Linked DNA regions of Homo sapiens: region 2 is linked to region 1. Evidence: fine-mapped expression QTL. A gene starts in region 1. The other region holds a variant in brackets. All regions are shown on one strand. Distances are from middle to middle. Region 1 holds the start of PDCD5 (programmed cell death 5). Region 2 overlaps SLC7A9 (solute carrier family 7 member 9).

What was found. PIP is the estimated chance that this variant, and not a neighbour inherited with it, causes the effect.
Region 2: its variant is fine-mapped to the expression of PDCD5 in coronary artery (GTEx, PIP 0.97).

Annotation. Positions count from the first base shown.
Region 1 is chr19:32,578,459-32,583,838 of GRCh38, forward strand. It overlaps PDCD5 (programmed cell death 5), which reads left to right and starts at 2,732. Exons shown (of 6, transcript NM_004708.4): 1 at 2,732-2,869; 2 at 3,737-3,774. The coding sequence starts at 2,804. RefSeq lists an enhancer at 2,182-2,271 and silencers at 2,482-3,211, 2,557-2,733.
Region 2 is chr19:32,853,097-32,858,476 of GRCh38, forward strand. SLC7A9 (solute carrier family 7 member 9) reads right to left here. Exons shown (of 13, transcript NM_014270.5): 9 at 5,344-5,380. Among named protein-coding and RNA genes, the nearest start is that of SLC7A9, 14 kb to the right of the region's middle. The variant A/G (reference allele first, on the strand shown) is at 2,370.

The DNA of each region.
Region 1 (5,380 bases):
AGGTAAGTTGGACTTTATGAAAATTAAAATATTTTGTGCATTGAAGGACACAATCAACAGAATGTAAATCCCATGGAATGGGAGAAAATAGTTGCAAATCATATACTTTGATAAGGGATTATCTAAAATATGTAAAGAACTACTACAACGCAACAACAAAAAAAGAAAAGCAAATTTTAAAATGGGCAAAGGGCTAGAAGAGACATTTTTCTTTTCTTTTCTTTTCTTTTCTTTTTTTTCTTGAGACAGAGTCTCGCTCTGTCACCAGGCTGGAGTCCAGTGGCGCGATCTTGGCTCACTGCAACTTCCGGCTCCCGGGTTCAAGTGATTCTCCTGCCTCAGCCTCCTGAGTAGCTGGGACTACAGGTGCGTGCCACCACGCCCAGCTAATTTTTGTATTTTTAGTAGAGACAGGGTTTCGCCATGTTGGCCAGGATAGTCTCAATCTCTTGACCTAGTGATCTGCCCTCCTCAGCCTCCCAAAGTGCTGGGATTACAGGAGTAAGCCATCGCACCTGGCCTAGAGTAGACATTTCTCTAAAGAAGATATACAAATGGCCAACAAGCACATGAAAAGATGCTCAACATCACTAATCGTTAGAGAAATGCATATCAAAACCACAACACCTCACCTCATACCCGTTAGGATGGTTACTATCAAAAACAATCAAAAAACAAACAAACAAAAAAACAGAACACAACAAATATTGGTGAGGAGACGGTGAAATTGGAACCTTCATTCACTGTTGGTTGGAATGTAAAATAGTGCAGTTGCTGTGGAAAATGGTATGGCCATTCCTCAACACAGAATTATCACATTATCCAACAATTTCTCTTCTGGGTATATATCCAAAAGTGAAAGCACAGACCTGAACAGATATTTCTACACCCATGTTCATAGCTGCATTATTAATAATAGCCAAAAGGTGGATGCAACCTAAGTGTCCATTGTCAGATGAATGGATAAACAAAATGTGCTAGGTATATCCATACAATGGAATATATTCAGTCTAAAGAGGGAAAGAAATTCTGCCACATGCTACAACATGAATGAACCTTTAAGACATATGCTAGGTGGAGTAAGCCAGTCACAAAAGGACAAATATTGTATGATTCCACATATACAAGATACCCAGAATAGGCAAATTCATAGAAACTAGAATGAGAATGGGTGGAGACTGATTATTATTCTCAGACCCCTCCCACCCCCACCCATTCCCATTAGAGGCCCCTCACACCAACCTAAATCTTTACTGGGTAGAGTTCCAGTTCAGGATGATAAAAAAAAAAAGTTGTAGAGATTGATGGTGGACAAGGTGGTTCATGCCTGTAATCCCAGCACTTTGGGAGACCAAGGCAGGTGGATCACTTTAGGTCAGAAGTTCGAGACCAGCTTGACCAACATGGTGAAACCCCATCTCTACTAAAAAATACAAAATTAGCCGGGCACAGTGGTGCACGCCTGTGGTCCCAGCTACTTGGGAGACTGATGCAGGAGAATCGCTTGAACCCGGGAGGTGGAGGTTGCAGTGAGCTGAGATTGAGTGACAACTGCACGATAATGCATTTCATACCACTGAAAAGTACACCTAAAAATGGTGAAAATGGTAAATTTTGTATTGTGTATATTTTGCCACAATTAAAACACACAGGCCAGGTGTGGTGGCTCATGCCTGTAATGTTAGCAGTTTGGGAGGCTGAGGCAAAAGGATTGCTTGAGCTCAGGAGATAGAGGCCAGCCTAGGCAACATAGCGAGACCCCATCTGTATTTTTTTAATGTAAAAAATAAAATAACACACACACAGACAAACAAACAGAATCTGTATGAGTCACACGTTTAGGTAGCTGAATATCCTCTCTGCCCCCAATTCCCCCAAGTCAAAGGCAGAAGGGATTTGTTCCACCAAAGAGTTTACACCAGCCACAGCTGCCCACTGCAGTATCCTCCCAGGAAAAGCCCTTTTGTGCGTGGAGGAGGCAGATGGCGAGGAGGCAGATGTGCACTTTTTTTTTTTTTTTTTTTTTTTTTAGAGACAGGGTCTGGCTGTGTCTCCCAGGCTGGAGTGCAGTGGCGAGATCAAGGCTCACTGCAGCCTCGAACTTCCGGGCTCCAGCGATCCTCCTGACACAGCCTCCTGAGTAGCTGGGACTACAGGTGCACATCACCGCGCCCAACTAGTTTTTTAAAATTTTAGTAGAGATAGGCTCTTGCCATATTGCCCAGGCTGGTCTCTAACTCCTGACCTCAAATGACCCTACCGCCTCCCGAAGCGTCGGGACCACAGGCGGCGAGCCACCGGCCGGCCTCTGTGTGCACCGAGGAGCCGGGCAGCCACCGCCACGATCCAGCTTTAGGACATTTCCATCACCCCACTCAGCCTTCCTGCGCCCCTGGTTCCTCATCTATAAATAGAGATAATATACGCCTAACCCTCTAGGTCACCAGCACATTGCACCCATAATTATTATACTTGTTGATGCCACACTTTCAGGTTTTAACCTTTCCAAAGCGCAGCCCCGCCCCAGCGCAGCCCAAGTCCCTGCACGCAGAGGCGCCGATCACGGGTGGGAGGTGGATCCCGGAGGCCCCGCCCCAGGCCCCGCCCCTCCGTGCGCCCAAGCTCGACCGCCTGAAATCGGGGAATCGGGCCTCTGCCGGCGCCCTGGCAGCGGCGCGGGGCGTGGCTCCGGGCTGGATTGGTGGCGCCTGGGCCCCGCGAGCGCCTGCGCAGTGGTCAAGGCCGCGCTCGCGCCGAGGGGCTGCGAGAGTGACCGCGGCTGCTCCAGCGCTGACGCCGAGCCATGGCGGACGAGGAGCTTGAGGCGCTGAGGAGACAGAGGCTGGCCGAGCTGCAGGCCAAACACGGGGTGAGCGCATCAGCCCCCGCCAGGCTTGGCCCTCGCGGGGCGCCGCCCTCGCCCGGAGTGTAGGGCGCGCCTCCGGGGCGGAGGCTCTGGGCGCCTCCCCGGGGCCCCGGTCCCCTGCGCTGCCCTGGCGGCCTCGTGGCCGGCTCAGAGGTGGCCTCGTCGCTTTCCTCGTCGCGAGGGGCCCAGGAGGCTGGCGGCGGGGGCCGCCACGTGCGGGACCTGCCCTGGCGTTGGGGTGTGGGGTCCCCTAGCCTGGAGCGGGCTCGTCCTGGCGGGCCTGGATCCAAGCACAATCTCAGCTTTTGGAGCCAGCAGCCGGACCGAATTCAGTTTTTCCGGAGTTCAGTTGTTATGACCCAAGTTTAGCCGACAGGTATTGAGGGTCCGCTGTGTTCCCGGTGCTGAGAGCGCGGCAGGGTCGGAGGAACGCTTGCCCCGCCGGGATGACAGGGAGGGGCCGCCTGGGAAGCTTGGATGGATCACACGCCCGGAGAGGCGTTTCTGATAAGGGACCGGGACCTTAGGGACGGAGGGCGCAGTCTTTGAGTTATCGTTGTCCCTAATACCGAGGCCCGTTTTATTTTCCAGAAATTATTCCTACATGTGAAACACGGTTTCGTAATACAGGGATTCCCCTCCCCAGGGTGCTCTGTATTCCAAAGCCTTCTGAGGTTGTGGTTTTAGACGTTCATCAAAACGTTGTAAGTGGGAACTAGTTCATTGATTTCTGTGAGGCCCAGTTTCTTATTTGGGGAGTTGTTTCTACCACCGCAAGAGACTGTTATGTATAGGAAACAACAGAACCGTTCCTTTTTCCCGCCGCCTCCCGTGAAATTTCTCTATTAAATTTAAGTTTTTTTTTTCCAGGATCCTGGTGATGCGGCCCAACAGGAAGCAAAGCACAGGTATGGGCTGGAAACGTGAACTTTTTGAAGGGTGGTTTCACCAAATGGATTTCTTTTGCTGTAGTTATTTTAAGCAGGTGTGTGACTCAGATTTTTTTGTTTTGCTGGAATGGTGATTTGGCCAAAATCATCCGCAGGGTATCTTCATTATTGTTAAATAAACACGTGTGCAGCTCCACATCAGACCTTGTATTGCAATTACTGGTTGATGTTTCTCTGCTACAATGTGAGTACCTTAAAAATGAGCCTGATAATAGGCAGCTGTGGCAGTTTCCTCGGCTGTGGGGGTGACGTGAGTCCGGTGCCTCACTTAGTAAGTGCTCAATAAGTGTTAACTGGTAAGCTATTCTGATTGTTTTATCCCAACACAGCGCACAGCACCTGAGACAGATGCAGGTAATTGATTCGGTGGCAGGTTTATTGAATGAGTATGTGATTACCCTATCATGCTATCATTTTTTAAAAATTGTGGTTAAATAAAATTTCACCATCACAACCATTTTTAAGTGTGCTCTTCAGTAGTGTTCACACTCTAGAATGTTTTCATCTTGCAAGACTGAAACCTTTAGCTACTGGACAATTCTCTATTTCCCCTTCCTCACCTTCTTACTCCTCCTCTCCAGCAAATATTTATAGAGCACCTGCTCTGGGTCAGGCACTGTGCTGGGTCTACAGAAATAGGAAGGGAGGGTTCGGGAGAAGACAGACGGTGAGAAGTATCTGGAGTAGTGATAGGAAGTAAAACGACGCAAATTTCATTGATTTCTGCCGTGTACATCTTTTCATTGTCACATATCTGAAATCAGGATGCCTTTTAAAACAGATTGCTCTTGCCCCAGATTCTTCCAGAGGGGATTTACTTTTGACTCTGCTATCACTTGAGTACATTTCTGAGACCATTGAAAGTTAAATTCTCTGCTTGAGGTTTTCCCCTGCCTCCTGCCTAGTAGTGTGAATTCAGACAGCAACCCTGTAAGACTGAACTTTTTTCTTCTTTACGTCAGGGCCAGGTGCATGCAAGCTTTTGTACTGCCCCTTACTGCATGGCATATTTATTTATTCTTTACTTTGTACTGAGAATGTTGCTCTTTGATACCCCAGTGGTGGGATCAGAACTCACTGCAGCCTCAAACTCCTGCTGGGCTCAAGTGATCCTCCCACCTCAGCCTCCTGAGGAGCTGAGATGACAGGCGTGCACCACCATGCCTGGCTAATTTTTTTAAACTTTTTTTTTTTTTAATAGCCTCGCTATATCACCCAGGCTGGTCTCAAACTCCTGGCTTCAAGTGATCCTCCCACCTTGGCCTCCCGAGAAACCCCAGTTTTGAATGGAGATCTCTATTAGACCTCTCATTTTAGGGTTTTTCATTTTTAGAGATACGTAAAACTATGGTGTATCTTAGAATTGATGGCATCTTAGGGTTCTGTGATATAATAGTTTGTGGCAGGCCAGGTGTGGTGACTGAAGCCTGTAGACCCAGCTACTCAGGAGGCCGAGGGGGAAGAATCACTTGAGCACAGGAGCTTGAGCTGATCATAGCTGCAGTGAGCTGTGATTGCACCACTGTACTCCAGCATGAACAGCAGAGTGAGACCCCATCTTTTT
Region 2 (5,380 bases), 270 kb after region 1:
GACAGGGTTTCACCATGTTGGCCAGGCTGGTCTTGAACTCCTGACTTTAAGTGATCCACCCACTTCGGCCTTCCAAAGTGCTGGGATTACAGGCGTGAGCCACCACGCCTGGCCCATGTCATTCCATTTAGATGAAATGTCAAGAAAAAGCAGTTATAGAGACAGAAGTAGATTAGTGGTTGCCTGGAGCTGCGGGTGAAAGCAGGGATTAATTAGGCAATGAGGAAACTTTTTGGGGTGATGGAAATGATCTAGAATTGGATTGTGATGTTTGTACAGCCTTATAAATTTATGAAAATAATTGAGTTGTATAATTACAAAGGGTGAGTTTTATATTTGTACCTTAATTAGAACTGTTAAAATTGTGTTTGTGTATACTAGCAATAAACTATCAGAAACTAAAAATTAAGCAACTTTTTTTTAACAGTACCATTTACAATAGTATGAAAAATGAAATTCTTTGGAATAAATTTGACAAAAGATGTGCAAGAACTATATACCAAAAACTACTCAAAAAACTTTTTTTTACAGAAAATTAAGCCAGGCCCAGTGGCTCACGCCTGTAATCCCAACACTTTGGGAGGCTGAGGCAGGTGGATCACTTGAGGCCAGGAGTTTAAGACCAACCTGGGCAACATGGTGAAACCCTGTCTCTACTAAAAATACAAAAATTAGCCAGGTGTGATGGTATATGCCTGTAATCCCAGCTACTTGGGAGGCTGAGGCATGAGAATCGCTTGAACCTGGGAGGCAGATGTTGCAGTGAGCCAGGATCGTGTCACTGCATTCCAGCCTGGGTGACAAAGCAAGATCCTGTCTCAAAAAAAAAAAAAAAAAAACACCAACAAACAAAAAAGTTGTTAAAACAAGATTAAAGACCTAAATAGTCCACCCATGGATTGGAAGACTCAGTATTTTTTTTTTTTTTGGAGACAAGGTCTCACTCTGTCTCCCAGGCTGGAGTGCAGTGCAGTGGTGCAATCTCAGCTCACTGCAGCCTCGACCTCCTGGGCTCACACGATCCTCCCACCTCAGTCTCCTGAGTAGCTGGGACCACAGGCATGTGCCACCATGCCTGGCTAAGTCTATTGTACTTTTTGTAGACATGGGGTCTCACTATGTTGCCTAGGCTGGTCTCTAACCCATGGGCTCAAGCAGTCCTCCCCCTCGGCCTCCCAAAGTGCTTTGATTACAGGTGTGAGCCACCGTACCCATGCTGGAAGACTCAGTACTTTTAAGACAGCAGAGTCTTCCCCCAGTTGATCTATGGATTCAACCCAGTCCTGATCAAAATCCCAACAGCTTTACTATAGAAACTGGCAAGCTGATTGTAATATTCATATGCAAGTGGGAAAGCTGCCAGAATGAAATTGGACCCTTATCTCACCCCTTAGACAAGAAATCTACTCAAAATGGATATAAGACTTGAAACTGTAAAATTCCTAGGAGAAAACAGGCAAGCTCTGTAACATTGGTCTGGGCAATGATTTTTTGTTGTTGTTGTTTTTGAGACGGAGTATCTCACTGTGTCGCCCAGGCTGGAGTGCACTGGTGCGATCTCGGCTCACTGCAACCTCTGCTTCCCGGGTCAAGCAATTCTCCTGCCTCAGCCTCCTGAGTAGCTGGAATTACAGGCATCTGCCACCATGCCCCACTAATTTTTGTATTTTTAGTAGAGACAGGGTTTCACCATGTTGGCCAGTTTGGTCTCGAACTCCTGACCTCATGTGATCCACCCACCTCGGCCTCCCAAAGTGCTGGGATTACAGGCGTGAGCCACTGCACCTGGCCTTGGGTATATATTTGAATGAATTGAAATCATATGCCAGATACCTGCACTCCTATGTACCTCTGGGTATATATTTGAATGAATTGAAATCCACATGTCAGGTGTCTGCACTCCCATGTTCATTACAACGTTATTCACCACAGCCAAGACATGGACACAACCTAAGTGTCCATCACAGATGAATGAATAAAAATAATGTAATAGATACACAATGGAATACTATTCCGACTCTAAAGAGAATGGAATTCTGTCATCTTTTGACAACAGAGATGACTCTAGAGAACATTATGCTAAGTGAAATAAGCCAGACACAGAAAGACAAATATCCCATGATCTCCCTTATGTATTATGGAGTCCTAATTAGGGAAAATGAGTCAGGCTGGTGGGACCAAGGGAAAGCCAAAAGAGATAAGACAGATAAGCTACAAGCCCGCCTTTCTTCATGGTCCAGGACACATAGCCCCCCTGCACAAATAACTTACAAGCTTCCTGTGCCCAGTGATCGCCAGTCCCTCAGCTAATAGAAAAATGCAGCCGGGCGCGGTGGCTCACGCCTGTAATCCCAGCACTTTGGGAGGCC[A/G]AGGCGGGCGGATCACGAGGTCAGGAGATCAAGACCATCCTGGCAAACACGGTGAAACCCCATCTCTACTAAAAATACAAAAAAAAATTAGCCGGGCGTGATGGCAGGCACCTGTAGTCCCAGCTACTCAGGAGGCTGAGGCAGGAGAATGGCGTGAACCTGGGAGGTGGAGCTTGCAGTGAGCCGAGATCATGCCACTGCACTCCAGCCTGGGTGACAGAGCAAGACTCCGTCTCAAAAAAAAAAATAGAAAAATGCAAGTTAGCTCACTGCAACCTTGGCATTATCAGTACTGCACGTACCCCTGTCCAGCACACAGCACAAGCACCATCCTACAAAATCCCCAGCAAGCCTTTGTCTCTTTGCAGTCAGTTCCTCTCTTGCTGACCTGCTCATTGCACCCTTGCAATGTATTTTCCTACTTTCTGTAATAAATCTGCCTTTCCTGACCTACAGCTGTCTTGGTAAATTCTTCTTATCCCTGTACCACCAGCCCAGATAGTTGTAATCATCTGCAACATACATGAAATCTAAAAATTCAAACATAGCAATAGAGAGTAGAATGCTGGTTACCAGAGGCTGAAGGAAGAGGGGCCTGGGATGGCAAAAGGGGAAATGTTGGTCAAAGGCTACAGAGTTTCAGTATGATGGGAGGAATAAGCTCTGGTGATCTACTGCACAGCAAGGTGACTATTGTTAGTAATAGTGTATATTTCAAAATAGCTAGTGGTTTTTTTTTTTTTTTCTGAGACGGAGTCTTGCTCTGTTGCCCAGGCTGGAGTGCAGTGGCGTGATCTTGGCTCACTGTAAGCTCTGCCTCCTGGGTTCACGCCATTCTCCTTCCTCAGCCTCCCAAGTAGCTAGGACTACAGGCGCCCGCCACCACGCACAGCTAATTTTTGGTAATTTTAGTAGAGATAGGGTTTCACCATGTTAGGCAAGATGGTCTCGATCTCCTGACCTCGTGATCTGCCCGCCTCGGCCTCCCAAAGTGCTGGGATTACAGGCGTGAGCCACCATGCCCAGCCAGTGAATTTTTAATGTTCTCAGCATAAAGAAGTATGTGAGGTGATACATATGCCATTCCACAATGTTTACATGTATTGAAACATCACACTGTACCACATACATATATGCAATTATTGTTGTTATTTTTTAGAGGCAGGGTCTTACTCTGTTACCCAGGCAGGAGTGCAGTGGTGTGATCGTGGCCCACTGCAGCCTGGAACTTCTGGGCTTCTGGAACTACAGGCATGGGCCTCTACACCCAGCTAATTTTTAAATTTCTTTTTGTAGAGACGGAGTCTCACCATGTGGCCCAGACTAGTCTCGAACTCCTGGCCTCAAGCAATCCTCCTGCCTCAGCCCATATAAGCAATTATTATTTGTCAATTTAAAATAAGGCGGCCGGGTGTGGTGGCTCACACCTGTAATCCCAACACTTTGGGAGGCTGAGGCAGGTGGATCACGAGGTCAGGAGTTCAAGACCAGCTTGGCCAAGATGGTGAAACTCCGTCTCTACTAAAAATACAAAAATTAGCCAGGCATGATGGCAGGTGCCTGTAATCCCAGCTACTCCAGAGGCTGAGGCAGAAAATTGCTTGAACTAGGGAGGCGGAGACTGCAGTGAGGCGAGATCACACCACTGCACTCCAGCCTGGGTGACAGAGCAAGACTCCATCTCAAAAATAATATAAGGCTGGGCACGATAGCTCATGCCTGTAATTCCAGGGCTTTGGGAAGTGGAGGCAGGAGGATCACTTGAGCCAGGAGTTCGAAATGGGCCTGGGCAACATGGTGAAACCCCATCTTGACTAAGAATACAAAAGTTAGCTGGGTGTGATGGCACGTGCCTGTGGTCCCAGCTATTCCAGAGGCTGAGGAGGGAGGATTGCTTGAGCCCAGGAGGTAGAGGCTACAGTGAGCCAAGATCATGCCAGTGTGCTCCAGCCTGGGCGACAGAGTGAGACCTTGCCTCAAAATTAATTAGTTAATTAAAATTTAAATTTAAAATTTATAAAGAAATACAAAGGATCTAGCCAAAACGCTTTTGACAAAGAATGAAGTTGGAGGCCTAGCACTACATGTATTTCGGTTTGGCTTTAGAAGAATGATTTTATGGTATTTCATTTTTTAACATACACAGACTTTGTCAATTTCACTCTGAAATATATCCATTCAGAACACTGGACAACTAAGCCAAGACACGTGTTCGAGGATGTTCACTGCGGCAACGTTCATGGAAACCACCCACACCCAGGTGTGAGTGAAGGATTTGTTAAGTTATGCTACATCTGAAAGTGTGATACAACACAGCTGGTGGCAGTCTCTAGACCAGATGGGTCTAAAGGATTGGCAAACCACAGCTGTTTGGGCAAATAAAGTTTTATTGGAACATGACCATGGCTGTTCACTCTTGGGTACCAAGGCAGAGTTGAGAATCTGTGACAGAGGTTTATGCAGCCTGCGAGCCTGGAATATTTACCATCTGGCCCTTTAAGGGAAAGTTAGCCAATTCTGGGTTATTTATTAATTTGCTAATTAGCAAATTAGTTTGTATATATTAACATGGGGAAGATGTTCAGGAAATATCACTATGTGAAAAATATCACTAGGTGAAAAGGTAAAAAGTGCCACGTGGAAAACCAGTGCCTCATTCACGCGGTGTCGCTTCCCTTCGCCTCAGCATGGGCAGCTTCCCCCCCATGTTGGGAACTAGGGCCCCCTGGAGTGGAAAGGCTGAGATTCCAGGCAGCCTTGATCAATTCCCGTGTGCAGGCCCATCCATGCCTTCCTGGCCAGTTTGCGGTGTGGGTTCAAGCTACATCCCTTCTCTGGATTTGGGTCTCCTACTTGTACTGGCGTGGGTTTCGCCTGGCAGAACCCTGAGGATTTTAGCTGTGTGTCTTCCTCGGGGGTGATATTGCTTTCGCCGCCCCTGTCCACCCTGGGAGTGACGGTGGGGGTCCCCTACCTGCCCGCTGTGAAGCAGGTCCCGTTAGCAGCACCGA